Linked DNA regions of Homo sapiens: region 1 is linked to region 2. Evidence: fine-mapped expression QTL. A gene starts in region 2. The other region holds a variant in brackets. All regions are shown on one strand. Distances are from middle to middle. Region 1 overlaps FGD2 (FYVE, RhoGEF and PH domain containing 2). Region 2 holds the start of FGD2 (FYVE, RhoGEF and PH domain containing 2).

Region 1 (16,050 bases), 24 kb after region 2:
AGGCTGTTCTCAAACTCCTGGCCTCTAGTGATCTACCCGCCTTGACCTCCCAAAATGCTGGGATTACAGGCGTGAGCCACTGCACCCAGCCAAGGTTATTTTCTTTAATGTTTTATTATGAAAATTTTAAAGCCAAGAAAACGGTATAATGAACCTCATATACTCATCCAGTTTTGAAATCTAATTTCCTTTTTTGTTGAATCCATTGTCAAAAATTGTCATCTCCACGTCACACTGGGTCAACTTAGCTGCTGCTAAAATTCCAGGAGCCATAGGTTCCATTTGCTTGGAGCGAGGCCCAGTTGCAGGGGCATTTGCTTGGCTCAACAGGATTAGAGAGGTGGCGAACAAGCTCTGCATCCCTGTCTCTCGAATTTGAATTGTCCCTTGGGCACAATCCACCTCCCTCCCCTCCACAGTGCTGTGCCTGGGACCCGGGCTATGATGAGTCTGAACTGGTTGCCTCCCTCCTCTTGGCAGGTGCGGGAGCTGATGGATGCTGAGTTTCCCCACTCCTTCCTGGTGTCCGGGAAGCAGCGCACCCTGGAGCTGCAAGCCCGGTAAAGGAGCTGGGGTGGCGGCCCAGGGCCAGGCGGGAAAACTGGGAGGGGCTGATCTCCTCAACACCTGTGTTCACTTTCCGAGCAGGTCCCAGGAGGAAATGATTTCCTGGATGCAGGTATGGGAACGCTCCGAGGCTTCTGGGAGTCTTTTTCCTTTCTTTCTTTTTTCTTTTTTTCTTTCTTGGTACTAGACTACCTTGATGAAGCTCCTGGGATTCTCCCTAGCCTATTTGGGCTGAAGGGGAGGGAGTGGTGTATGTATGCATGTGTGTGTGTGTGTGTGTGTGTGCATGTGTGTATGCATGTGTGTGCATCTGTGTGTGCATGTCTGTGTCTGTGTGTTTGTGTGTGTGTTTGTGTGTATGTGTGCATGCATGTGTGTGCGTGTGTACATGTATGTGTGTATGTGTATATGTGTGTTTGTGTGCATGCATGTGTGCATGTGTTTGTGTGTATGTGTGTGTTTGTATGCATGTGTATGTACGTGCTTGTGTGTATGTGTCTTTGTGTGTCTGTGTTTGTGTGTGCGTGCGTGTGTGTGTGTGCATGCTCCCACACCTGCGTGTGCTCAGCTGCTCCCTGCTCTTCCTAAGGAGCTGCTCTGTGGTAGTTTGGAGACCGATCTGGGTTCCTATCTTGCTGCTTCTCATTGCCTAGCTGGGCAGTCCAGGGCCAGTCACTTACCCTCTCTGAGCCTCAGTTTTTACATCTGTAACCTGGGGCTGGTAGTTTCTCCTCCGATAAGGCAGCCCGCGTGTGTGTAGAATCCAGCGCCTGGTACCCAGTGGGCTTTCAGCCCTGTCTGTTGCATGCACGGAAGGATGGACAGAGGAGCAATCCCTCCCTTCCACACCTCAAGCCCCGACCCTCCCCCTCCCTGCACCCCAGGCCTTCCAAGCAGCCATTGACCAAATCGAGAAGCGGAATGAAACCTTCAAGGCTGCGGCCCAGGGGCCTGAGGGAGACATCCAGGAGCAGGAGGTAAATGAAGGCTTTTTCATCCCTTGCTGGAGCCACCAACCCAAATAGAGCTTGTTCCCTCTCTGTTCTGCCTATACCAGCTCAGAGGGAGAGGGAGTGTCATCTGCCAGGAGAGACTGAAGGGACCAGGGGAAGCCTTCCCAGCGCATCCCCCGACTCAGGGCCTGAGCATTCCCCTTTAGCAAAACTTCCTTTGAGAGCCTGTCTGCACAGCTGTCTTGGGGAAGTGTTTCACGTCTCTGCAGCTCCAGCTGCAGGGGGCAGTAGGGTTTTGGGTTTGAAAGTATCTGAGAAATACAAAGTCTCAGGGAAGATGGAAGGTGAGTGAGGTGGGGGCTGGGGAGGATATCTGTGGTTTGAGTTCAGATTTGAGCTGAACTCTGGCTTGCTGAGTGACTGCTGAGTCATTTGACCTCTCTGGGCCTCAGTTTCCTCACTTATACAATAGGAATAATGGTAACTAACGTATCATAAGGTCTCGATCAGGTCAGTCAGCTTGCTGTAGAAGCCCCAGGGAAGCCCAACACAAAGAATCCCTGCTACAGCAGGTGGGCACAGGGCCCCAGGCCCTGGGAGGATGGGCGGAAGAAGGTCACCAAGGGCCCATTCCTGCCCAACTCCCCTTAACCCACAGCTGCAGTCTGAGGAGCTGGGCCTCCGGGCACCGCAGTGGGTCCGGGACAAGATGGTGACCATGTGCATGCGCTGCCAGGAGCCCTTCAACGCTCTGACGCGCCGTCGCCACCACTGCCGGGCCTGCGGCTATGTGAGTACTCCTGCCAGCACTCCTGCCTCCACCTGCGTCACCCAGGCCTCCACCTGCATCACCCAGGCCTCCACCTTTCCTACCTAGGCCTCCGCTTGATCCACCTAGGCCTCCACCTGCCCCACCTCGGCCTCCATCTGTGTCACCTCCACCTGTCCCTCCGAGGCCTCCACCTGTGTCACCCAGGCCTCTATCTTTCCTACCTAGGCTTCCACTTGATCCACCTAGGCTTCCACTTGATCCACCTAGGCCTCCACCTGCCCCACCTTGGCCTCTACCTGTCCCACCTCGGCCTCCACCTGCCCCACCTTGGCTTCCACCAGTGTCACCCAGGCCTCTACCTGTCCCACTTAGGCCTCTACCTGCCCTACCTGGGCCTCTACCCACCCAGCTCAGGTGCTGCTGTCCCCATCTTGGCCAAATCTGCTGGCTTCAACCAATGCAGCCCAGTGGTGTTGGGCACTAGCTCTGAGCCAGGTGTGTGTATTACTACCTCATCTGGCCCTCACAGCACACCTCAGGAGGCTGCTGTTTCCCATTTTTTAGATGGGAAAATGAGACCCATTGAGGTTAAATTACTTGCTGAAGGTACCCCTGAAGCTGATCCTATGAATTTACCTGCATTCTTATCATCATTTTCCACGACCCTGAGACCCAGAGCTAGGAAATGGTCCCCAGTTCTAGTGGAGGGGCATCTAGCCCCGCACCCCCTCAGGCCTTGCCCCACCACCTCACCAGGCCCATGCCCACTATGCACTCACCCACCCCGTCATCCTCTCTTTACCCGCTTCGGCTAACTGTCCTCTCTTCTCTGCAAGCCCTCAGCACCCTGGCACCTGATGGATTCTGTTGTTAACTCTGCCTACTGGTTCAGGCCTCAGTCTCCTTAACTCCGCCATGGGGATCGTGAAACCTACCTCCAGTGTGGCAGTGAGGATTCCACCAAAAAACATTCTTTCCCTTCCCTCTCCTCTTTTTCTTTCCCCCTCCTCCATAACTCAGGCAGGGCATCCAGTGCGGGTGAGCTACCAGCTTCTTGAGGAGGGTACTGTGTCCACTACAGTTTCTCCTCTTATCAATCCAGGCCCAGTTACCAGAGGTAGATCTCGCTTTGCTTTTTAAGCACTCCTGTACTTGAGCTGTTCTCTGTTGACATCACAACCCCCTCTGTTTACTCTGCAAACAGAGAAGCCCTTTGCAACCTCAGTCTTTGATGACCTCCAGAGGACAGGAGGAGTCTAGCTGGACAGGTTGGGGCCAGTCAGGGAGGTGTCCCCAAAATGTGTTCAACTGCAATCAGGACAGAGTCAGTTTCTAGGACCTGGGAACACACCTGCCTTCAGATGTCAGTGATGAGTTACATCCCGAAGCCAGGTAGAAAGGATGTGGGGATTGGCTACTGTTCCTGGTGATTCACTTCTGTAAATAAGAGTTGAATTGATTCACACTTGTGAGTGAAAGTAGTTCTTTAAAAATTACTTAAAATAGTGAAATACAAAGAGGCACAAAGAATAACAACACCTGTGTAGCTGCCTTCCAGCTTAAGATAGAAAATATTCTGACAACTAAATTAAATGTATGATCCTTGCTTGGATTCTTTCTGGGGTAAAATAAAGCTATCAAGGTTGCTCTTGGGACCATTGGGAGAAATTTGATGATGCAACATATCTAGATAATAATATTGTATTGGCTGGGTGCAGTGCCTCACACCTGTAATCCCAGCACTTTGGGAGGCCGAGGTGAGCGGATCACCTGAGGCCAGGAGTTCGAGAACAGCCTGGCCAACATGGTGAAACCCTGTCTCTACTAAAAATACAAAATTAGCCGGGTGTGGTGGTGTACACCTGTAATCCCAGCTACTCGGGAGGCTGAGGAGGGAGAATCGCTTGAACCCAGGAGGTGGAGGTTGCAGTGAGCCCAGATCACCCCACTGTACTCCAGCCCAGGCAACAAAAGCAAAACTCCATCTCAAAAAAATAAAAATAATAATATTGTATCAATAAATTTCCTGAGCGTGACTGTGACACCGTGGATAGGTAGAAGGATGCCCTTGTTCTTAGGAGACCACCAGCTACATATTTAAGGGTGAGGTGTCATGATGACTGTAATTTATCCTCAAATGGTTCAGAAAAAAATAAAATACATACATATAGAGAGAGACAGAGAGCAAATGTGGCACAAATGTTAATAATTAGTGAATCTAGTGGGTGGTATCATTGTATTATTTGTTCAATTTGTCTGTCGGTAGGAAATTTTTCAAAATTAAACGTTGGTAGAGGAAAAAATATTTACTAATTATATTTAAACATTGAAATCGCTCAATAAAAAAAAAATGCTCCTGAGGTAGCTGAAGCCCCCGTGTGGGGCTGTGCCCTGACCGTGGGTTTCTCTTGCCTGTGCAGATCTTCGTGCCTGCTGAGCCAGTGAGTCATCCTTTCGGTGGTTCGGGTGCCAGTTTCTGTCTCCCCTGCCTGCCAGACGGGAATCCTTGTGAGGGTGGGGCAGGGCCAGGCCTTCTTCTCCAGGTCCCTGCCAGGCCACACTCTGTGCTGGGCACACAGAGGAGCTCCCTGAAGGCTGGTGCCGCCTGATGAACTACACTCCCTCTGCCCCTTTCTCCTGCCCTCCATCTCCACGCCCACATCTGGGCTCCCCATAAAGCCAAGTCTTCCTCGCAGTCACACCTTGCGGCACCCAGTGTTCCTCTCTGAGTCTTCCCAGGCCCCTTTTACCCAGCCTCCCGGCATGATCCATGTCAGCCTTTGGGGGGTGTCTTCGTGGTGAGCTGAGAGTGGGCCCCGCTCCACAGAGTACCCATGTAAAAACAACCAGCCTATCATTTTTAGGTGAAAACACACTTGACTCCATGATGGCGCAGAATACAAAGTCTGCCTGAATCTTAAAGCTAAACTGTGGGACTTGAAAGACACACCCTGTGTGTGGAGGGCCTGTCTGCCAGGTAACAGTGTGGCTCTCAGGGTCAGGAGAGGACAAAAGCTGGGCCCTGCTTGCCTGGTGGGGTCTTTGGGAGAGTCAGGTGAGATGGCGGAGAGGACAGCATTTGGAAAAGTGAATCAGATGCCAGTGGCCCGTCTGGGGCAAGCCCCTTGGGTTCACAGCAGCCCTCACTCGGAGGGAACCTGGAGGGGAGAGAAGTTACGGCCCTCGCGGTGGGGGCCGGGTCTTGAACCCTCAGCCTAAGAGCCCCGAGCCCGAGCTCCCCCATGTGTCGCAGCCTCCAGGCAGTTGGGCCTCACCAGCATGGGGGAGCATCCCCGCTCTGCCTCTATTCCTCCCTCGAAGCTTTCTTTTCCTCCCCCAGTCCCTGGTTGCTCTCATGCCCCCACCTGCCCACCAAGGCAGGAGCCCAGCCCTCCGGTGCCTGGTCTCAGCCCCATGCCCCCTTATGTGTCCTCCTCAGGTGGTGTGTGCCAGGTGCTCCGACTACCGGGCCGAACTGAAATACGACGACAACAGGCCCAACCGAGTCTGCCTCCACTGCTACGCATTCCTCACTGGAAATGTGCTGCCTGAGGCCAAGGAGGACAAGAGGCGGGGCATCCTGGAGGTGAGGGCCACTGTCCCCGCGCTCACCATCCGTCCTCTGTTCAGGGAATGTGTGCCCGGCAACCATGCTGGGCTGACACTGTCCAGTGCTGAGGAACAAGCCAGCCATGGTCACACCCTCCCCCCTCTCCCTCTTCCTCTCTCTGCCCACAGACCCCAGGCCTCTCGCCACAGCCCAGGCAGTGTGGAGCCTGTCACCAAATGGAGGCACCCTTTGGCTGCAGGCTGTCGTCCACATTCTTCTGCACTTCCTCTATGTCCCCATCCGATAGTACGGCCCCTCTGGACAGCTCATGTTCACGTCCCCATGTCCTGCCCCGACAGTCCCAGGGTGCCAAGAGCTGGTGTCACCGCTTCCATTTTACAGATGGGAACACTGACGCTCCAGGTCAGACAGATTGGAGACTCCATTCTAACTGGAAGGGACTCCAGGGGCCAGTCGGTCTTATCCCATGGAGACCCAGGGCTGGAGGAGTGACTTGCCCAAGATCACACAGCAAGTTAGGAGCCAGCTCTCTGATCTCAGTCACAGATGTTCTTTCTGTTGCCCTGGGGGCCTCACTGAGCCACACTTGCCCCCACAGGTGCTCCCCTGTGGGGGTACAACTGTGCTCAGCTAGGCAGCACAAATACAATGTCAACCAGCTCAGCATCAATACCACTGTCCACTGCCCCTCCCTCACGAAGGCCAGGTTGACATCCCACCGTCCCTGGGAGGTGGGAGAAGGTCCCAGCCTGTGCCAGCTGAGATTCACTCCCAGGTTCAAGTTGGCCTCTTTTGGCCAGGCGGGAAGGCTCATGCCTGTAATCCCAGCACTTTGGGAGGCCAAGGTGGATGGATCACGTGCGGTCAGGAGTTCGAGACCAGCCTGGCCCACATGGTGAAGTCCCGTCTCTACTAAAAATACAAAAAAAAAAAAATCAGCCGGGCATGGTGGTGCATGCCTGTAATCCCAGCTACTCGGGATGCTGAGGCAGGAGAATCTCTTGAACCCGGGAGGTGGAGGTTGCAATGTGTTGAGATTGCACCATTGCACTCCAGCCTGAGCAACAAGAGAGAAACTATCTGAAAAAAAAAAAAAAGTTGGCCTTTTTCCACGGGCATCCACCCCGTTTCCAATCCTCCCCATCCTTCCAGGCCCAGGACCCCCTGACCACTAGGCAACACAGCCTGCCCCTGGAGATGCTCAGCCCCTTCTCAGGGCCCAATTCTGTTTCCTGGAGCAGCTCCAGGCACCCTCCCGGCACCTGCCCCTTGTGGGCACACACGCGACAGGTTCAGGCAGGCTGGGGTTTGACTGCAGCTCTGCCACTGGCCAGCTAGCTGTGTGACCACAGGCACTTGATGGGACCTCTCTGAGCCTCAAGGACCAAGGACCCCTCCATTCAGTACTGCTGTAAGGATTGGAGATAGTGATTGTCAAGCCCCCAGACCAACATCTGGCACTTGCGGCTGCTCTGCTCCCTGACAGTCCCTCCTTCTGGTTTTAGAAAGGGTCCTCAGCCACGCCTGACCAGAGCCTGATGTGCAGCTTCCTGCAGCTCATCGGGGACAAGTGGGGCAAGAGCGGCCCCCGGGGCTGGTGTGTGATCCCTCGGGATGACCCCCTCGTGCTCTATGTCTATGCTGCCCCTCAGGTAAGGCCACCACCTGCCCGCCCCCCGTCAGGCCCTGGCCTTCCCACAGCGTGTGTGTGAAGGGGGTCAGGGGTGAGTATTGCTAGCTCCATATGTCAGATAGGGAAACTGAGGCCCAATGAGGATATGGTATCCTGGAGTCTCAAGGTTGGTAGGTTTCAGAATTGTGCCCTGACTCTAGGT[C/G]ACCACTGCTTTGCCCTCAGAGGCAGCCAGTTCTTCTGTCCTCTTCCTCGATGGCCTTCACCAGCCCACCCCCAACCCATGGGGGTTTAGGGTGTGAGCTGTGCGTGCGTGGCTGTTGCCTTCACGATGGCTATCTGGGGCAGTAGGACTGAGAGGGGACAGTGGCCCACTGCTCTCTCCTCCCCCCAGGACATGAGGGCTCACACCTCCATCCCCCTGCTGGGCTACCAGGTGACTGTTGGGCCCCAGGGGGACCCTCGGGTCTTCCAGCTACAGCAGTCAGGCCAGCTCTACACCTTCAAGGCCGAGACGGAGGAGCTGAAGGGCCGCTGGGTGAAGGCCATGGAGCGGGCGGCCAGTGGCTGGAGCCCCAGCTGGCCCAACGATGGGGACCTGTCCGACTGAGCCACTGCCAGCCGCTCTCCTGCCCACCTCTCCCCACCCTGAACCCAGCTCCTGCCACAGACTGACCCTGTGGCCTCAGTGACCCACTGCCCCAAGTGGTGCTTTCAGAGAATTGATTCAGCCATCTGCGCCCAGGCCACGTGTCCCGATCTGGGATTAGAAAATATGGGTCCATTCCTTTCTAGAAAGGGGACAACCAAGTGTCTCAGTTTGCCTTGCGGGGAGGGGGCTCCTGGGCCATGGGACTTCCAGTGCTAAAACTGGGAAAGCCCCAGGTAACCCCGGACTGGTGGTCACCATAGTATGGTTTTTCATTTGTATCTCCTGGGGAGCTTTTAAAGAGTACTGGTGAAAAACACATAGTAAATTAATTTTAAAAATGTAAAAAACAATGCCTGTACTGAAGTACCACCACCGATTTAAATGGGCTGAGTTGGGGGAGGCATGGGGTCTTTTTTTTTTTTTTTTTGAGACAGAGTCTTACTCTGTTTCCCAGGCTGGAGTGCACAAACATGGCTCACTACAGCCTCGCTCTCCCGGGCTCCAGTGATCCTCCCGCCTCAGCCTCCCAAGTAGCTGGGATTATAGGTGTGTGCCACTGTGCCAAGCTAATTTTTTTATTTTTTGTAGAGATGGGATTTCACCATGTTACTCAGGCTGGTCTCAAACTCCCAGCCTCAAGCGATGCTCCCACCTCCACCTCCCAAAGTGCTGGGATTACAGGCGTGAGCCACCATACCTGGCGCATGCATATTTTTTAAGAGTACCCACTGGAGTCTAATATATAGCCTGGGTTACCTGGGATGAAGAATAAAGAGAGCAAACTACCACAACCAATGGTTGAGCCCCTGTCAAGTGCCAGTCATGATAGTAGTAATAATAATAATAAACATCTATTGGACCAGGCTCTGTGCAAGGTGTTTTATGTGGATTATGTCATTTTACCATCCAGAGTTATCCCCATTTCCAGATGAAGACACCGACTCAGAGAGGTTTAGTAATTGGCTCAATTGGTCATGTAGCTCGTAGATGCCAGAGCCAGGTTTTAACCCGGTGAACTAAGGTCAAAGCTCTTTCTATCATGGAGCAGAACAATAAGACAAGCAGAGAGGGGAGGAGAGTGAGGAGAAGCAAAAGAGAGGGAAAGAGAGTGAAGAAGCTGGGAAGACAAGAGAGAAAGGTGAATGGTGGGAGGAAGGGTGACGGGAGGAGCATCCCTGTCCCCTCATCCCCACCTCGCTGGTGGGTGAGGATGCTTTTTCATAAGAGACCACCAGGGGGTGGCAGTGGTCAGCAGGCCACATGCAGTGGCCCCAGCAGTGGCCAGAACACCCTCAGCTGCTCTCAGCAGGTCCAGCCATTGCTGGGCTCTGCCCTGAAAGGAGGAAGCATGGATGAGTCACAGGTTTTTGTCCCATCACAGGCCCAGCAGCTTTGCCTGCCTCCAACCTGAGGCCACTTCCCTCCTGTAGGGTGTTTGTTTGTTTATTTGAGACAGGGTTTTGCTCTGTCATCCAGGCTGGAGTGCAGTGGTGTGATCAGAGCCCACTGGAACCTTGACCTTCTGGGTTTAAGCTATCCTCCTTCCTCAGCCTCCTGAGTATCTAGAAGCACAGGTGCACGCCACCACATCCAGCTAATTTTTAAAATTTTTGTAGAGATGGGGTCTCACTATATTGCCCAGACTGACCTCAAACTCCTGAGCTCAAGCAATCCTCCTGCCTTGGCCTCCTAAAGTGTTGGCATTATAGGCATGAGCCACCATGCCCGGACAGCATCAGCATTTTATTTATTTTTTATTTTTATTTTTATTTTTGAGATGGAGTCTGTCACTCTGTCACCCAGGCTGGAGTGCAGTGACGCCATCTTGGCTCACTGCAACCTCTGCCTCCCAGGTTCAAGTGATTCTCCTACCTCAACCTTCCAAGTAGCTGGGATTACAGGCGTGCGCCACCATGCCCGGCTAATTTTTGTATTTTTAGTAGAGACGGGGTTTCACCATATTGGCCAGGCTGGTCTCAAACTCCTGAACTCCGGTGATCCACCCATCTCAGCCTCCCAAAGTACTGGGATTACAGGCATGAGCCACTGCACCTGGCCTGCATCAGCATTTTAAAACTCGCCAATGATGCTGAAGGCAGCTGGCTCGGTGACAGCAGAGTCGATTCTGCAGCACTGATACCTAAGCTTTTCCAGGGGTTTAATCTGAGTGGGAGTATGGAGAGTGGCTTCACTGTGGAGCAAAATGAGGTAGCCGTCAGGAGAGGGAAGCGAGGGCACACAACCTTTGTGCTGTCATTGTTAGGTTTACTGAGGTGTAATTTACAGACTGTAAAATCCACCCTTATTAGTATATTTTCTAAGTTTTGGCAGAAGAGTACAGTCATACAGCTACCACCACAATCCCCCTATAAGTGTCCCCATGCCACCCTTTGTAGTCAACCCACACCCCTACTCCTTGCCTCTGGTAACCATTGATCTGTTTCTGACTGATAATTTTGCCTTTTCCAGATGTCATTTAAATGGAACCATAGCTTTTTAAGCCTGGCTTCCTTTACTCAGCATTATATATTTGAGATTCATCCATTTTGTTCTCCATGTCAGTAGTTCATTCCTTTTTCATTGCTGAGTAGTATTCCATTGCATGGGCATACCACAGTTGTTCATCTGTTTACCAGGTTAAGTATACTTGGGTTATTTCCAGTTTGGGGCAATTATGAATAATACTCCTATGAACTATAAACGTTCATGTTCAGTGTTTGTGTGAGCACGTTTTCTTTTCTCTTAGGTAAATACCTAAAATTGGGTCACTGAGTAAGTGTCTAACTTTATCAGAAACTACCAAGCTGTTTTCCATATTGGTTGTACCATTCTGCATTCCTACCAGCAATGTATGACATTTCCCCTGCTCATGCATTTGGTATAGTCAGGTTTGAAGTTTGTTTTTTTAAAATTAATAATTTTAGACATTCTGGTGAATGTATAGGGCTCATGACCTTTTAAATGTTTATGATACAAAGAAATGCATACAGGCTCACATCTGTAATCCCAGCACTTTGGGAGGTCAAGGCAGGAGGATCGCTTGAGCCCAGGAGTTTGAGTCTGTAATGAGCTATGATTGTACCACTGCACTCCAGCATGGGTGACAGACTGAGACCCTGTCTCAAAATGAAAAAAAAGTAGGTATTTTGCAAATGATTATTACCTACTATGTGTACCTAATACGTGCCAGGTAGTATACTACTTATACTACTTTTTCTTTTCTTTTTTTTTTTTTTTTGAGATGGAGTTTTGCTCTTGTTGTCCAGACTGAAGTGCAGTGGCACGATCTCCGCTCACTGCAACCTCTGCCTCCCAGGTTCAAGCGATTCTCCTGCCTCAGCCTCCCAAGTAGCTGACATTACAGGTATGCACCACCACGCCCAGCTAATTTTGTATTTTTAGTAGAGACGGGGTTTCACCATGTTGGCCAGGCTGGTCTCAAACTCCTGACCTCAGGTGACCCACCTGCCTTGGCCTCCCAAAGTGCTGGGATTACAGGTGTGAGCCACCACGCCTGGCAAGGTAATATGCTACTACTTTCCAAATCTCAGGGGCAGCTGATATCATGCAAAGGGCACCCCCTTGATAGCCTGAAAAGCTCAAATTCCAGTTCTGTTGAAGGCTTGACATAGGGTCTTGGGGATATCACCCAACCTCTTGAGCCTCCATGTATTCATTGTAACTTGACAAGCAGTGCCTCTTTGTAGGATTTGGTGTGAAAACCAAGTGAGATAATTCAGGGAAAGCTCCTAGCCCACAGACGGAGCTCGCTGGCTGGGAGTTGTTACTAGCTATGCTCTTCATGGACGTTTCTGCTTTCCTGGGACCATTTGTTCTGGCCGCAAGCCTGGTTGCTTCTACCTTCAGGATATACTGCGAACAGAGCCCGTCCTCACACCTCATACCCCTCACATGCTGTCACTTGGCCCGGCCACTGTGATATCTCTGGGGGTGATTGCTAGAGCTTCCCACCTGCCCTTCCTGCTCCCACACTTGTCCTCTGGCATCTTCACACAGATTCTTTCAAATCTGAAAGCTGAGCTAGTTTTCAGCTCCCAGCCCTCCAGTAGCATGGGGTTAGAAGCCCATCTAATGCCTCCCTCCGTGTGCTCCACCAGGCCCTTTGGGATGACCCCTGGCTGCTTCTCAGAGTTCCCCCTTCCCTTGCCCCATCTCACCTCCCTCCCTCAGCACACTTCCACCTCAGGACTCTTGCACCTGCTGCTCGTTCAGCCTGGATGCTGTTCCTCCAGAAATCCGCCCGATGCACTCCCTCACTTCTCTCCAGTCTCTGCCTCATTGGCCCTCGGACAGGCTTCCTTGTCCACCTGCCTCACGTAGTGCTCCTGGCAACTCTGCCCCTGACTCTGCTTCACATAATACAAATCGTTTTATCTATTTTGTTTCTTTCTTTCTTTTTTTTTTTCTTTAGACGGAGTCTCGCTCTGTCACCCAGGCTGGAGTGCAGTGGTGCGAGTGGCAAGCTCCGCCTCCCGGGTCCATGCCATTCTCCTGCCTCAGCCTCCTGAGTAGCTGAGACTACAGGCGCCCGCCACTGCGCTGGGCTAATTTTTTTGTATTTTTAGTAGAGACAGGGTTTCACCGTGGTCTCGATCTCCTGACCTCGTAATCCACACGCCTCGGCCTCCCGAAGTGCTGGGATTACAGGCGTGAGCCACCGCACCCGGCTTCTATTTTATGTTTCTTAGATTAGTGTCCTGTCTCCATTTTTGGAGGGCAGAGAGTTGGTCTTTTGTTCACTGCTGTTTCCCAGTGCCTGGCCCACAGCCAGTCCTCAATAAAAATCTGGGGACTGGCTGGGAGTGGTGGCTCACAACTGTAATCCCAGCACTTTGGGAGGCTGAGGCGGGCAGATCACATGAGATCAGGAGTTTGAGACCATCCTGGGCAACATGGTGAAACCCTGTCACTACCAGAAAATACAAAAATTAGCTGGACATGGTGGCACACGCCTGTAGTACCAGCTACTTGGGAGGCTGAGGCAGGAGAATCGCTTGAACCTGGGAGGCGGAGGTTGCAGTGAGCCGAGATGGCACCACTGCACTCCAGCCTCAGTGACAGAGTGAGACTCTGTCTCAAACAAAACAAAACAAAAGATCTGGGGACTGACAGAATGAATTGTGTGACTCAGACACGACAAGGCCATCACCTCGTACTTACTAATCATCGCCACCACTATGTCCATGAGGTCATGGGACTTTCACATCTTTCCACTTCCCCAGCATGACGCTCTGTTATTCGTCTCTGTATCCCAGGGCTTAGCATGTAGCAAGTGCTTGAAAAATACCCTCTGGCCTGGATTCACGCCAGCTCTGCCCACCCTCCAACACAGTACATTTTCATTTTCTTCCTTGAGGTGACTGGAGGTCAAAGAGGTAAAATGATGTGTCCAAGGCACGTAGCATTCCTGTGCACTCTCTCAGGGACCGGGACGCAGGTCTCCAACCTCTGACAGTGACCCCACACCTTTGTCCTCACCTTACTGCCTGTCCCGCCCTCATGGCTTGATACCAGGACCTGCTTCTTTTTGAAGATGGCCACAATGAGAGTATTTCCACCATGGAAATTGGCAAACATGAAAATTGGCATGTCAGCCCCTCTGACCTGTCATCCCCCAACAAAGAGCTAGTTGTTCCATTTTTACCAGCACCTCACTGGACAGGGAGCCTGGCATTCTGGGGAGACTGAGGGAAGCCATCTTAGCTCACATAGCCCTGTCTCGATCTTACAACCAGACCACAAGCCCCTCGAGGGTGGCCAAGATGCCTTATCCATCTCTTTTCCCCACTCCTGTCCTCACTCTCTGTCCTGGGCTTGCTGCCAGCTAGATTTGGGCCTAGGGAAACACTGAGCTTCTTCAGGTTGAAGGCCAAGGTAGGGGTGAGGGCATCTTCCTACTGGTACTGCTGGCCTGCCCTGGCCTCTGCCTGGCCACCGTATTCCTGTTCTTACTGCCTGGGGGAGCTGAGCACTGACATGCTAGAGCCATTTCCACCTCTGAACTGTTCTTCTCACCCTCTTCTCTCTATGATTCTCAGATTTCTCATCTTTGCCATTATCATGTCTCACTTTCTTTTTTTCTAGGAATAAAAACAAAAGTTAATTTTTGATGAGCACTTACCATGTGCTTTCTTTTTATTGGCTCATGTAATCCTTATACCAGCTCCATTGTACAGAATGAGAACAGAGAGGCACAGAGAGGTTCAGCAACTTGCCCAAAATCACACAGCTGGTAAATAGGGAAGCCAGAGCTCAGTCTAGATGATCCGAGACCTCTCTGGAAAGCAGCAGTGAGCACATCAGACTTAGAATTGTAAAACATGGGTTTGAATACAGGCTCTGTCACCTCCTGTGACTTTGCTGTCTAGGTCTCAGCTTCCTTCCTCATTCACAAGGTGGGACGATGAACATGCACCCCATCCATTCATAGGGTCATTTCAAAGTCAAATTATGTAACAGGCGTAAAAGGATATTGAAAATGGGAAAGTGGGCTGGACGCGGTGGCTCATGCCTGTAATCTCAGCACTTTGGGAGGCTGAGGCAGGCAGATCACTTGAGGCCAGAAATTTGAGACCAGCCCGGCTAACATGGCGAAACCCCTTCTCTACTAAATATACAAAAATTAGCCAGGCTGGTGCATGCCTGTAATCCCAGCTATTTAGAAGTCTGAGGCAGGAGAATCACTTGAACTGGGGAGGCAGAGTTTGCAGTGAGCCAAGTTCATGCCACTGCACTCCAGCCTGGGCGACAGAGCAAGACTCCATCTCAAAAATTAAAAAAAAAAAAAAAAAGAAAAAGAAAAGAAAAGAAAAAAAGAAAGAAAGAAAGAAAAGAAAATGGTAAAGTGCTCAGCAAATGAGTGGATTATTAGTATATGGTTCTGTTTTCCAATTTTGATTTCCTCTCTTGCCTCTCAGAAGAATTCTTTGTCTGCTTCTGTTGTACCAGCATGCACAGTGCCCAGCAAGCTCCCAGATGCAGAGGCGATCAGGCAGTGTTGACTTCTCTTCCTGTGTTCTCTGCTGGGCTCTAATTTCTCTGATTTTTTTTTTTTTTTTTTTTTGAGATCGAGTCTCGCTCTGTCGCCCAGGCTGGAGTGCAATGGCACAGTCTCGGCTCACTGCAACCTCTGCCTCCCAGGTTCAAGTGATTCTTCCACCTCAGACTCCCAAGTAGCTGGAATTACAGGCGCATGCCACCACGCCCAGCTAATTTTTTTATTTTTGTAGAGACGGGGGTCTCACCATGTTGGCCAGGCTGGTCTCGAACTCCTGACCTCAGGTGATCCTCCCGCCTTGGCCTCCCAAAGTGCTGGGATTACAAGCGTGAGCCACCGTGCCCGGCTCTAATTTCTCATGTCTTTCAAGGAGACTCAATTCACCTCTCCTTTTCTCTTTCCATCATCAAGCCCAGACTCAGAGAGTGGGTGGGTTCACCCCAGCAGGCTCCTAGTGCTCAGACCAACACCAGTACTGCCACTCCTTGAATGGAGTCAGTACATGAATACATCTTAGACGTTTTAATGAAAGCCAGTTGGAAGTTATGCTTCACTTTCTAGAAACAGGCTTGAGTAAACTTTTTAGAAACATATTTATTTTTGTGGAGCAAGGCAATATATCCTGGTCTGACTTTATTTTTAAAATTATTTTGGGGGGTGGGGGTAAGGGGAGGGAGAGCATTAGGACAAATAGCTAATGCATACAGGGCTTAAAACCTAGATGACGGGTTGATAAGTGCAGCAAACCACCATGGCACATGCATACCTATGTAACAAACCTGCACACTCTGCATATGTATCCCGGAACTTAAAGTAAAATAAATAAACACATAAATACATAAAATTATTTTTAATATACAATAATCCCTTGCTATCCATGGGAGATT
Region 2 (11,377 bases):
TCGGAATAATTCCACTCCTCAGGTTGACAGTAACATTTAGGAACACCCAGGCCACAGAGGGTCAGGGGCATATAGCAGGCAAAATATAGGGAGGTTCCTGGAAAAGGTGAAAGCGGGAAGGCCGGCGGGCCTTCCACAGAAGGGGCCAGCACCCTTCCAGAAGAAAGCCTCGGCAAAGGGTGGAATTTCCGGCAGAGGGACAGAGTGGAACAATTCTGGCTGCTTGGAGGAGGGGACAGATGAGACGAGTCTCCAAGGGAGCCCAGCTTTGTTCAGCTTCCTCCCTCCAAGCCAGGGATCGGAGGCCCTTGGCGCCCATCCCTCCCATCGGCAGTGTGGCCTCTGCCCACCATGTGACTACCCAGACAGCGCCCTCACTAGGGCCTTCCAAAAGCAGGGGGTGGGGGTGGGCAGGAGGAGGGGGTGAGGCGGAGACCGGGAGGGGTGGCAAGGGTCACGGCAGCCTCTGGCACAGGTTTCAGCTGGCTGCCTGCATCCTCTCTAGAGCCGCATCATCCCAGCTCACAGGCCTGTCTGTCACGGGCCATTAAGCCCTTGGCAGGTGCTGTGTGCTTGACTGAGGCTGGAGGTGGGATGGCTGGCAAGGGGGAGCCTGGGAACATGCCAGCCTGTCCCCTCCAGTCCTTGTCACCCTGAAGATAAATGCTCCTTTGGGGAGTCCTCACTGTCCCCGGAAAGGCTACACCTGGTGAACCCCTGCAGATTTGCTACACACACACCGTTCATACACACAATGCACACATACATACATGCACGTGCACACACGCCAACCTACACACACACCAGATACACACATGTCACATACACACCCCACAAATACACACATATACACTCATAGCATCCTGATCCTAAGTTGTGACACTTCCTCCCTGGCAGCCTCTAAATGCCCCTTCTGCTTTCCCAAAGTTGCCCCAAGAGGTCCTCTGGGCGCCTCCAGTCTACACACAAAGCCGCTCTGCATGCACCCCAGGGTAGAGATCCCTCGCCAGCCGAGTCCCCACCTGGCCCTGCAGTTCTGCTTGGGCATCCCTCCCTCACCCTCCCTCCCACCTTCCCCCATCTGAGCTGTAGGGAACTGAGCTCTTCCATCTTCCCTTGGGCTTGAAAGCAGAGAAGAGGAGAAAAAAAACAAGAGGTTTATTCATGCCAAAGACCCCAAGAGCCCTGAAATGGAGACATTGCCCCTGCTCAGAGGGAGATCTGTAGACTGGATCAGGGGTTACTCTGCTGAAAACGCTATACTCACTCCCCTAACCTTCTAAGCACCTCAGTTTGGCAGACAAAGCCTAGCAGGCCAGGCTTCCAGGACCCCTTCAGCTGCGGGTTCCACCATTTCCCAGGCCCTGGACACCCACGTGTGCGAGGCCCTGTGTTCTTCCCAGTCTAGCCATGGTAGCCATGGTCTCTCAAGCCCATATCCCTTTGCACATGCTGTTCCTTCTGCTTTGAATGCCCCTTCCTGTCTTGTCCACACAGAGTTAACTCATCCTTCATCCTTCATCTTTTTTTTTTTTTTTGAGACTCTGTCACCCAGGCTGGAGTGCAGTGGTGCAATCTCGGCTCACTGCAACCTCCGCCTCACAGGTTCAAGCAATTCTCCTGCCTCAGCGTCCTGAGTATGTGGGACTACAGGCACCTGCCACCACACCTTGCTTTTTTTTTTTTTTAATTTAATGGAGACGGGGTTTTACCATATTGGCCAGGCTGGTCTCAAACTCCTAACCTTGTGATCCGCCCGCCTCAGCCTCCCAAAGTGCTGGGATTACAGGTTTGAGCCACCGCACCCAGCCCATCCTTCATCTTTCATACTTCAAGTCACCTCTGCCACAAAGCCTTCTGATGACCCTTCTTTGGATGTTCATAACTCCCTTGTTCAAAGCTTTCATCACATCCTATTTTAGTGGTTAACAGGCCCATCTTCCTTATTAGAGTTTGAGCTAAAGGGCTGGGGACTGTGTTTTATCTACAACCTCTACTATGGTATTGACACATAGTAGGTGCTCAAGAAACACTTATCTACTGAATGCGTGACTTAATGAATAGGGCGGAAAAGACAAAATTAAACAGAGAGGAACACCAGGTCTCTGAGGAGGAAAATGAATTTCCAGCAGTAGGTATAAAGGAAGGCTTCCTGGAGGAAGTGAACCGGCTGTAGACAGACTGAAGACACTCTAGGCCAGGGATCCCGTAGCCTATTAGGAACTGGGCCGTACTGCAGGAGGTGAGTGGCGGGTGAGCATTACCACCTGAGTTCTGCCTCATGTCCCATCAGCAGTGGCATTAGATTCTCATAAGAGTGCGAATCCTATTGTGAACTGTGCATGTGAGGGATCTAGTTTGCTCACTCTTTATGAGAATCTAATTCCTGATGATCTGAGTGGAACAGTTTCATCCCAAAATCATCTCCCCACCCCCCGCAACCCCAGAAACCAGTCCCTCGTGCCAAAAAGGTTGGGGACCACTGCTCTAGGCAAAGGGAACTGATTGGTCAAGGCAGAGCGGAGCTATAGCAAAGGCTTCTCTCAAAAGTAAGAATGCTGGTAGCCAACAGTCACCGAGTACCTACTCAGTACCAGGCCTTACTCTAACCTCTTCTATATATTATTATCCCATTTAATCTTCATAACAACCACAGGAGGTTGGCAGTATAATTATCCCCATGTGGCAGAAGAGGAAAGTGAAGTTCTGTTACTGGTCCAAGGTGCTACAGAGAAGCAGAAGGACCGGGAGTGACACAATACAGAAGATGGAAGAGCTCAGTTCCCTGCAGCTCAGATGGGGGAAGGTGGGAGGGAGAGAGTGTGAGGGAGGGATGCCCAAGCCAGAACTGCAGGGATCCAATACAGAATACAGAATTTGACCTTATACAGTGTGGGAGCTTCTTAAAGAGTTAATGCTTCTGAGTCTAAAGTAAGCAGGGCAGGCAGTGGGGAGGAGAAGCCGGCAGGGAGGTAGGGGGAGCAAAGAGGAACTGAACTAGTCAGGAAGAGCTGGGACTCTGGAGGACGGACAGGTGGCCACCTCCAAGCCATCAACTTTGATGACACAGGTTATCTTTGTCCTGGAGCTAAGCATGCACCTGGCCCAGGAGCTGGACAAGCTGAAAAGGAAGATCAGTGGAGAAGCAACAGACCCACATCAACATGTATGATCTGCAACAGGGCTGGAGCTCTGCACTGACCCAGGAACAAAACAGGGCTGCTATATCCCCTCCTGCATCCATGGCTAACAGTAGTCCAGACCATGCAGGGAAGGGGATTCTGGGGCTGTGGCTCAGCGTGGCTCAGCTTAGCTCAGCCACAGTACCCGGCAGGTTTGGATCCCAACACAGATTAGGTGTGTGCAGGCAAGAAGTAGCTGAGAGTGTCAACCAGGAGGATCTTGATGGCTGCCCCAGTGAGTTTGAGATGACTTCAGTGCAATAATGGTGCTGGCTTTAGAGAGTTGTGTGTTGAGTTGGAAGCAAAGGTAGGCATCTACCTGGTGATATCCTGAAGGTGTTGGACATATCCACTGGGTAGAAGGGCAGGAAGAGGTACCAGTGGGACCTCCAGGATAAATTCTGAATTGGGTGGGAGGTGTGTGTGAATCAGGAGACCAGAAGGCCGAGGCTGAGTCTCAGGTGATGCCTGCAGGTACAGGCAGAAAGCCTGGCAGACTGTGAGGGGCCCAAGTCAGAGTGGTAGGGGACAGGGGAGGCAGAGCCTTGGATGATGAGGGAAGGTTGTTTTGGGGGTGTAGACATCTTGGCCTCTTTTTCCTGGAGGGAAGCAGCTCTGATGGTGCCTGTGCCATCTTCAGGGTTAGGGTATTGGAGGCCTCTTGAAGGCCCACCTACCCACCCTCCAGCCCCCATGGGAGGGGCAGGTCCCATTGTTCAGGCTTGGATGCTCAAAGCACTGGCAGCTGAGGGGTAAGACAATCCTCTGAGGCTTGGGGTGTGATGTCTGTCCATTCCACATGCCTTCTGAGGCCCCACTGTATGCGGGAAGGGCGCTGGGGTTGGGGACCCACCAGGAAGTGCACGTACTCAGGTGTGCCCTGCGTGGAGGGAGCAAGCCAGCCAGTGAGCAGAGAGACTGGTGGGAGGCAGAGGAGGAAATCCAGGAGAGGAACACCAGGGAGGGAGGCGCCCCCAGGCCAGGGAGGGCATCGGGAAGAAGTGGCATTTAAAGGTGATTCTGATCGAGCCTCTAGACCTAACCACCATCGACAGGAAATCCAGGGTATGGCGCTGCAATGGGCTAAGTCCTGGCTGTGGGACCTACAGGACAAACAACCCAGGGTCCCTCCACTATGCTGTGTGGGAAAACGGAAAGGACCAGGGGAACGTGTGGATGAAAAGTGAATTCATCCACGTGACAGCTCAGGGAATGTGTGGACCTTATTTGGATTCTGATTTTTTTTTTTAATTTAACATTTATAAGGAATTGGCACTTGGAATGTTTTCTGGATATTTAATTATATTGAGGAATTATTGCTAAATATCTCTTGGGGTATGATAACGGTAATATTATTTCATATGTATATACACATGGATATAACATGTAAAACATGTATGTCTATATAAAACAATATTACTATTATACATGTGTATATATGCATATACATTTATGTGTGTGTATATTTAGTTATTTAAAGGGTTCTTGGCTGGGCGCGGTGGCTCATGCCTGTAATCCCACTACTTTGGGAGGCCGAGGCAGGTGGATCATCTGAGGTTGGGAGTTCGAGACCAGCCTGGCCAACATGGTGAAACTCCGTCTCTACTAAAAATACAAAAATTAGCTGGGTGTGGTGGCACACACCTGTAGTCCCAGCTACTCAGGAGGCTGAGGCAGGAGAATCGCTTGAACCCAGTGGGGTGAAGATTGCAGTGATCCGAGATTGCAGCACTGCACTCCAGCCTGGGTGACAGAGTAAGACTCAGTCTCAAAAAAAAAAAAAAAGAGAGAGAGAGTTCTCATCTTCTAGATACACACTAAAATGTTTATGGGTAATGTCATCTGACATCTGGGATTTTCTTCAAAATGACATGAGAAGGCAGAGTCGATGTGGCTGCAGCAGGGACAGGGGACTGGCTGTGAGCTGAGGTTTGTTATGGTCTGGATTAGGGGTTCATGGGATGCATTATATGATTCTGTCTAGTTTTGCATATGTTCTAAATTCTCCATAATAAAAAGTAAAAAACAAAAATGGAGGTTTGTGAGACTTAGGGTTTGGGGCAGGGGGCCCGGCATCTGGTGGGAGAAACCACTCAGACGAGGCTTGGGGTGAGGGCGGCTGTTGGGCATGTGAGGCCCCAGGGGTTCACAGTTACTGGAGCGTGAAGCTGTTCCAGGCACTTCACGTACCAAGAGCACCGAGGCTCAGGCCCTGCACTCCAGGACACAGACCAGGTTCAGTGGAGAGCCCTGGTGGGACCAGAGCCCAGTGGGAGGGCCCTGAACGGCCTGTGGGGCTTGAAGGAGGGGAACAGAGGCAGCGTCCATTTGTTCTGTAAGGGCCGGGAGACCAGGTGGTAAAGGAGGCCTCAGGCAAAGACAACCCAGTGTCCTGGGATCAGGGAGGCCTGGGGATGGAGCAGCAAGAACATGGTCATCCAGGCTCCCAACGAACCTTTGCTGGAACTGTAGGACACCCACTTTTGCTTTGGAAATCCAACTTCTCTTGTATTCTTCCTGGGTGACCTTGGGCAAGTTACTTAACCTCTCTGATTCTGTTTCTTCCTATGTAAAGTGGGGATAGGAATAGTACCTACCTCATGAGGTTGTTATAGGATTAATAAGAAAATACTCATAAGCATGAAAAAGAGTGCATGTTAGCTATTATTATCCTCTGAGTTTCAGGGAGGAAACTGCCCTCCCTTGGGGCAATGAGGTGATGACAGCAACAACTAAAATGAGAGAACCCCAGTGGGGAGGTGGGAACATCACAGTACTCCCTGCCACCCTTACCAGGTTTGTGATTATTTTAAATAAAACATGCTGTTTCCTGGCCAGGCACAGTGGCTCACATCTGTAATCCCAGAATTTTGGGAGGCCGAGGCAGGAGGATCACCTGAGGCCAGGAGTTCAAGACCAGCCTGAGCAACATGGTGAAACCCCATCTCTACTAAAAATACAAATAATTAGCAGGGCGTGGTGGCAGGCCCTGTAATCCCGGCTACTCAGGAGGCTGAGGCAGGAGAATCGCTTGAACCGGGAGGCAGAGGGTGCAGTGAGCCGAGATCCCACCACCGCACTCTGTCTCTAAAGAATAAAAAAGACATTATTTCCTTACAGCTGTGAGCAGGGGCAGATGCAGAAAAGAAGGTGCTGGGAAAGAGGCCAAGTAAAAGCCACTGGACCTTCTGAAGGAGAAAGTGTGGTTGGCTGGAACCACTAGGCCAAGAAACCAGCCAAGGGTCTGGCTCCGGGTGGCCTTTTTTTTTTTTTTTTTTTTTAAGAGACGGTGTCTCACTATGTTGCCCAGGTTGGTCTTGAACTCCTGGGCTCAAGCAATCCTCCTGCTTCGGCCTCCCAAAGCACTGGAATTAGAGGTGCAAACCACTGCACCAGCCCAGACTGGGCTCCAGAAGCTACCTCTGGGCCCTGTTGCCACCTCTTAGGTGGCTTCTGGAATGGGGGTCTACAGGTGTGAAAGGTCAGCCCCCCTGAGGGAGAGGTGGGGCCCGAGCAGGCTCCTCCCACTGCGGGAGTGCTGGCCTTTCCCCTGCAGGGCTGTGGCTCTGGGACCACTTCCTCTTTCTTCACTCTGAAGCCAAGAGCCGACCTTCTGAGCCCTCAAGAAAGATCAGAACAGATTCATGGGTGATTTAGCCTATCTGTCCCAGGCCAGCGTGGCTGAGTGTGCTGGCTGGAGGCCTCTCTCTCTGCTTCGAGGGTAGCTGAGATCCACCCCGGAAACCGGCAGGATGAAGGGGGCAAGTGAGGAGAAGCTGGCATCTGTGTCCAACCTGGTCACTGTGTTTGAGAATAGCAGGTATGGGCAGCTGGGGTGGGAGGGTCACCATGGTGGGCTGGCAGCCACCCTCCAGCCTTTCTGGCAGCTCTCTCCCTGGGCCCTGCCCCGGACCCTCCTCCTGCAGGGGCAGCCCCGCGTTCCTCGGTCACGGATTCCTTGGAGCATGGGAGAGTGTCGGTGGGACACCAGGAGCCAGGCAGGGGTGAGAGTGCCAGTGTGTGTTGGGAGAGTCCAGACAGGTGTGGTTACGAGCAAGCATGGGCAGACCAAAGCCTGTGTGTGGGCACAGGACCCCACCCAGTGCCTGCCAGCACCTCTCAGAAAAGGTAGCTGATACTCACCAAGAATTTACGCCCTATGATTAGGATAACCATATAATTTATCATTCAGCACACAATTGAAACTGAAAGTAAATGCCAAATAAAATGTGGTGGTTGTGGGGGAGGCATTACAGGTAAAGCTGGGACCGTATGAGGCAAACCAGGATGTACGGGCAGCATCCTGATGGGGTACTCCCTACTCTAAGTTCATGTCCTTACTTATTTAATTTAGTCATCGAACAGCCTAATAGGGGTAGATTCTGTTTCTGTTCCCGTCTTATAGATGAGGAAATGGAGACACAGAGAGGTGAGGATGCCAAGTGCTTTAAGTATCTGGGGCAATGCTGGGGCGTCTGTCTGGAGGGAAAAGGCTGGGCCAGATGCGTGGAGTCATTGGTAGCCCTGGGAGCATGTGTGTTTGTGTGTGTGCGCGTGTGTGTATGTGTGTGTTGTGTGTTATGTGTGGCATCAATCCATTCTGCAGGCATTTCTTAAGCTCAGGACTGTGTTAGGGGCTGTCCCAGGTAGGGTTTTCTGGAAATAGACTCAGACAGAGGTTTGCCTCAGGTGATTTATCAGGGAGAGCTTTTGGGAACAACAGCTGTGGGTGTGAGGGAAGCAGGGCCGGGCAGGGGGAGATGCTGAACTGCAGTGCACCTGCCACAGAGGCCTCAGCCTGTCCCAGGGAGCTCTGGAGCTGGGATGCCTCTCGGTTGTTCCAGCTGAGGAAGAGGGCTGGGTATTTGTATCTCCATGTGGACTGGACAAGAGACTCTGGGTGAGGCAGCTCTCTCTTCCAGAGAGTGATTCCCAGAGAGGGACTCAGCCAATAAATTACCCGGCAGCCCCCAGTACTACCAGTAGCTGGTGGGGATGGTGTGGGGAGGCCTCATTCCTGAAGGAGGGACATGGGTGGCACAGCACAGCATCCTACAGGAACTGTAGAGGATGAAGAAGGGTTTCAGTATTTGGATGCTGAGCTCATCGAATAACTATGATGCAAGGTCATAGACAGTAGATGTCCTAGGAATGGCCCGGATGCTGTATTGAGGGCACTCATGGCAGGCAATGTTTCCTGTAGGCTTCAGGGTGGAGATGGCATAGATGTAGACCTAGAAGTCTTCAACTTCCTGAGCTGGGTGATTCTCCCCTGCCTCTCCCGGGATCTTTGCCAAGCTCGTCCTGTTCAGCACCAAAGACAGCTCTTGGGTGCCGCCTTCCTGGCCCACCACCCCCTTGGGTGTGGGTGGATGGTACCACCTCACTCAACATGCTTGACGTGGACTAGGCACACCTGGGTGGAGCCCCTCAGCATGCTGTGCTCTGCCCAGGCAATAACCCTGGCAGGAGTGGGCAGCCCTTAGACGGGAGTTAGGTCCCAGCAGGCATCAAGAGGGTGAGAGCCACTCCTTACTGAGTGAGGGGACCCATACCAACTGCCTTGGCCTGGGCTTCCTTATGAGGTCTCCAGCACCTCAGCTGATCTGAAACTGAGGGGCAAAGAGGAAACAGAAGCTGGCCAGGGGCCCTAGAACAGAAATGCAGAACCTGAAACCAAATGTAGAACAGAAAGCCTGAGAACCAGCTACGCCCATGAGCTGCAGACCCATGGGCTGAGAAACCAGGGACTGGGGTGCCAGGGAGGGGTGGGAGAGCCTGGGAGTAGCCACACAGCACTAGGTCCCAATGCTTTCGCTGCCACAAACCCAATTGTGTCACTTGGGGCAAGTCACTTTGACTCCGCGGACCTGTTTCTCCTTTACTCAAATGGGGAGGGGCAGGTTAGAGTGAAGGCTCAGGAAGCAGTCGCCTGATTTGAATCCCACCTCTGCCACTTCCGAGCCGCATGTTACTCATCCTGTCCAGACCTCAGTTTCCTTGAGTGCAAAATATGGGTAATGAAAACCTTTCTCACGGAGTTTTGGAGATTTCGTATTTGTTTGGCCTTCCATTTCCTGGCCTGTCTTTCTCATAAGGATGCCTGCCCTGTTCTGTCATCACAAGCCCTTCCACACCAAGGGCAACGTTGGGTGTATTCATCAAGGGTGGGCCCTGTTGTCTAAGGAATTTGACTGGCTTGCAGAACCCAGTACACAGGGTAATAAAGGTGACCTACGAAGGCCCGTCCCTGGGAGAACAGAGCATCTGCTGCTGGGCTGGCTCTCCCTGCTTCTGGACGTGTGGAGGATGTCGATCCCATTGAGAAGCCCCAGCTTTTGCAGGCCTGCTCTCACTTTATATTGTTCTGTGGCTCCTACCTTCCCTTGATGTATAGGTTACTGATGTGGAAACTGAAAACAGAGGTGAGGTCCAAAGGTGAGGATAATCCAGGGGGTACCACTCAAAAACCCCTATATACAGAAAGGATTCCTGGACACTGTGGCTTCATTTTAAACAAGGAAGTATGCAGTTCCCCAGAAAATAAAATATAGTCCACCCTGACTCATTTTGAACACTGAGTTCCCTCCAAGAATGTGTTGGGAGAGAAGTGAAAGTCTTACTCAGCATGTTCCCAAAGAAAGCCAGGCACCCAGGGGCCCCTGCACTGGGGATTTGCACCAGGCAACCCAAATCCACACCAGGGACTTGCTGCTGTTTTCCCTGTTCTCCAGGGAGGAAGCCCTCAGGTCTGTCTCTTCTCCTCAGGACCCCAGAAGCAGCACCCAGAGGCCAGAGGCTAGAGGACGTGCATCACCGCCCTGAGTGCAGGCCTCCCGAGTCCCCAGGACCACGGGAGAAGACGAATGTCGGGGAGGCCGTGGGGTCTGAGCCCAGGACAGTCAGCAGGAGGTACCTGAACTCCCTGAAGAACAAGCTGTCCAGCGAAGCCTGGAGGAAATCTTGCCAGCCTGTGACCCTCTCAGGATCGGGGACGCAGGTGCCTGAGGGCTGAGGTAGAGGTGTGGGGTGCTGGGGTGGGGAGCTCTCCCTGACCTCCCCTCCACACATGCTTTCCTAGCCAGAGCCAGCAGTTCCCCAGGTGGGGGTATGGTGTGATCAGAGGTCAGCTGGGAGCTAGATTTCCCCATGCTTAATGGCCTTTGATTCACTAACTGCCTGCTACGCACCGTGCTGGATTACTTCGCGAGTCCCTCGTGTAGGAGTTTTTTGGACAAGGAAGTTGAAACACAGTTTTAAGGAACTTATTCAAGGCCACACAGCTTGGAACAGTCTCCATCTTGTGAACCTAATACTCTTCTCAGGTGGGGCCTCAGTTTACCCACTGGAGGAGACAACAATCTCAACCTAGAAATAGAGGTCTGAGTGTGAACTGTCCTGCCCTTAGACTAAAGCCCAGTCTGATCTCTTCTGTGGCTTGCAGTTTTCTCATCTGCAGAGTTCAAGGGTTGGCATGCAGATACTGTGCACCCAAATTCCCTGGAGTCACATCCCAGCACGTCTGCTTACTAACTGTGTGTCCTTGGGCAAGTCACTTGAGTCTCTTTGTGCCAGTTTCCTCATTTGTAAAATGGGGATAGTGGTTATAGTAATGCGTCCTGGTTTTCAATCGCTGCTGAACAAACCTATCAAAAATGTAGCGGCTGGCCGGGTGCAGTAACTCACGCCTGTAATCCCAGCACTTTGGGAGGCCGAGGTGGGCAGATCACCTGAGGTCAGGAGTTCAAGACCAGCCTGGCCAACATAGGGAAACACTGTCTCAACTAAAAATACAAAAATTAGTTGGGCATGGTGGTGGGCGCCTGTAATCCCAGCTACTCAGTAGGCTGAGACAGGAGAATCACTTGAATCCAGGAGGAGGAGGTTGCAGTGAGCCGAGATTGCGCCACTCCACTCTAGCCTGGGTGACAGAGCGAGACTCTGTCTCAAAAAAAAAAAAAAAAAATGTAGGGGCTGAATGTAACTGTTTATTGTTTCTCACATTTTGTGAGTTGACTGGGATGCTGCCGGGAGGTTTTTCTACTGGCCTCACTCGGGGGTCTGTGTGATTCTGCTTGGGCTGCCGTAACAAAATGCCCCAGACTTCAACACCAGACATTTATTTTCTCACAGTGCTGGAGGCTGGAAGGCCAAGTTCAAGGTGCCAGCAGGTTTGGTTTCTGGGGAGGTCTCTG

The links. PIP is the estimated chance that this variant, and not a neighbour inherited with it, causes the effect.
Region 1: its variant is fine-mapped to the expression of FGD2 in whole blood (TOPMed, PIP above 0.99).

Annotation. Positions count from the first base shown.
Region 1 is chr6:37,020,061-37,036,110 of GRCh38, forward strand. FGD2 (FYVE, RhoGEF and PH domain containing 2) reads left to right here. Exons shown (of 16, transcript NM_173558.4): 10 at 481-560; 11 at 649-679; 12 at 1,452-1,544; 13 at 2,179-2,310; 14 at 5,732-5,878; 15 at 7,369-7,515; 16 at 7,888-9,009. The coding sequence ends at 8,103. Among named protein-coding and RNA genes, the nearest start is that of FGD2, 22 kb to the left of the region's middle. RefSeq lists enhancers at 4,450-5,649, 5,361-6,298, 9,583-9,662. The variant C/G (reference allele first, on the strand shown) is at 7,699.
Region 2 is chr6:36,998,884-37,010,260 of GRCh38, forward strand. It overlaps FGD2 (FYVE, RhoGEF and PH domain containing 2), which reads left to right and starts at 6,772. Exons shown (of 16, transcript NM_173558.4): 1 at 6,772-7,002; 2 at 9,951-10,182. The coding sequence starts at 6,935. RefSeq lists a silencer at 6,370-6,532 and enhancers at 6,788-6,917, 8,738-8,907.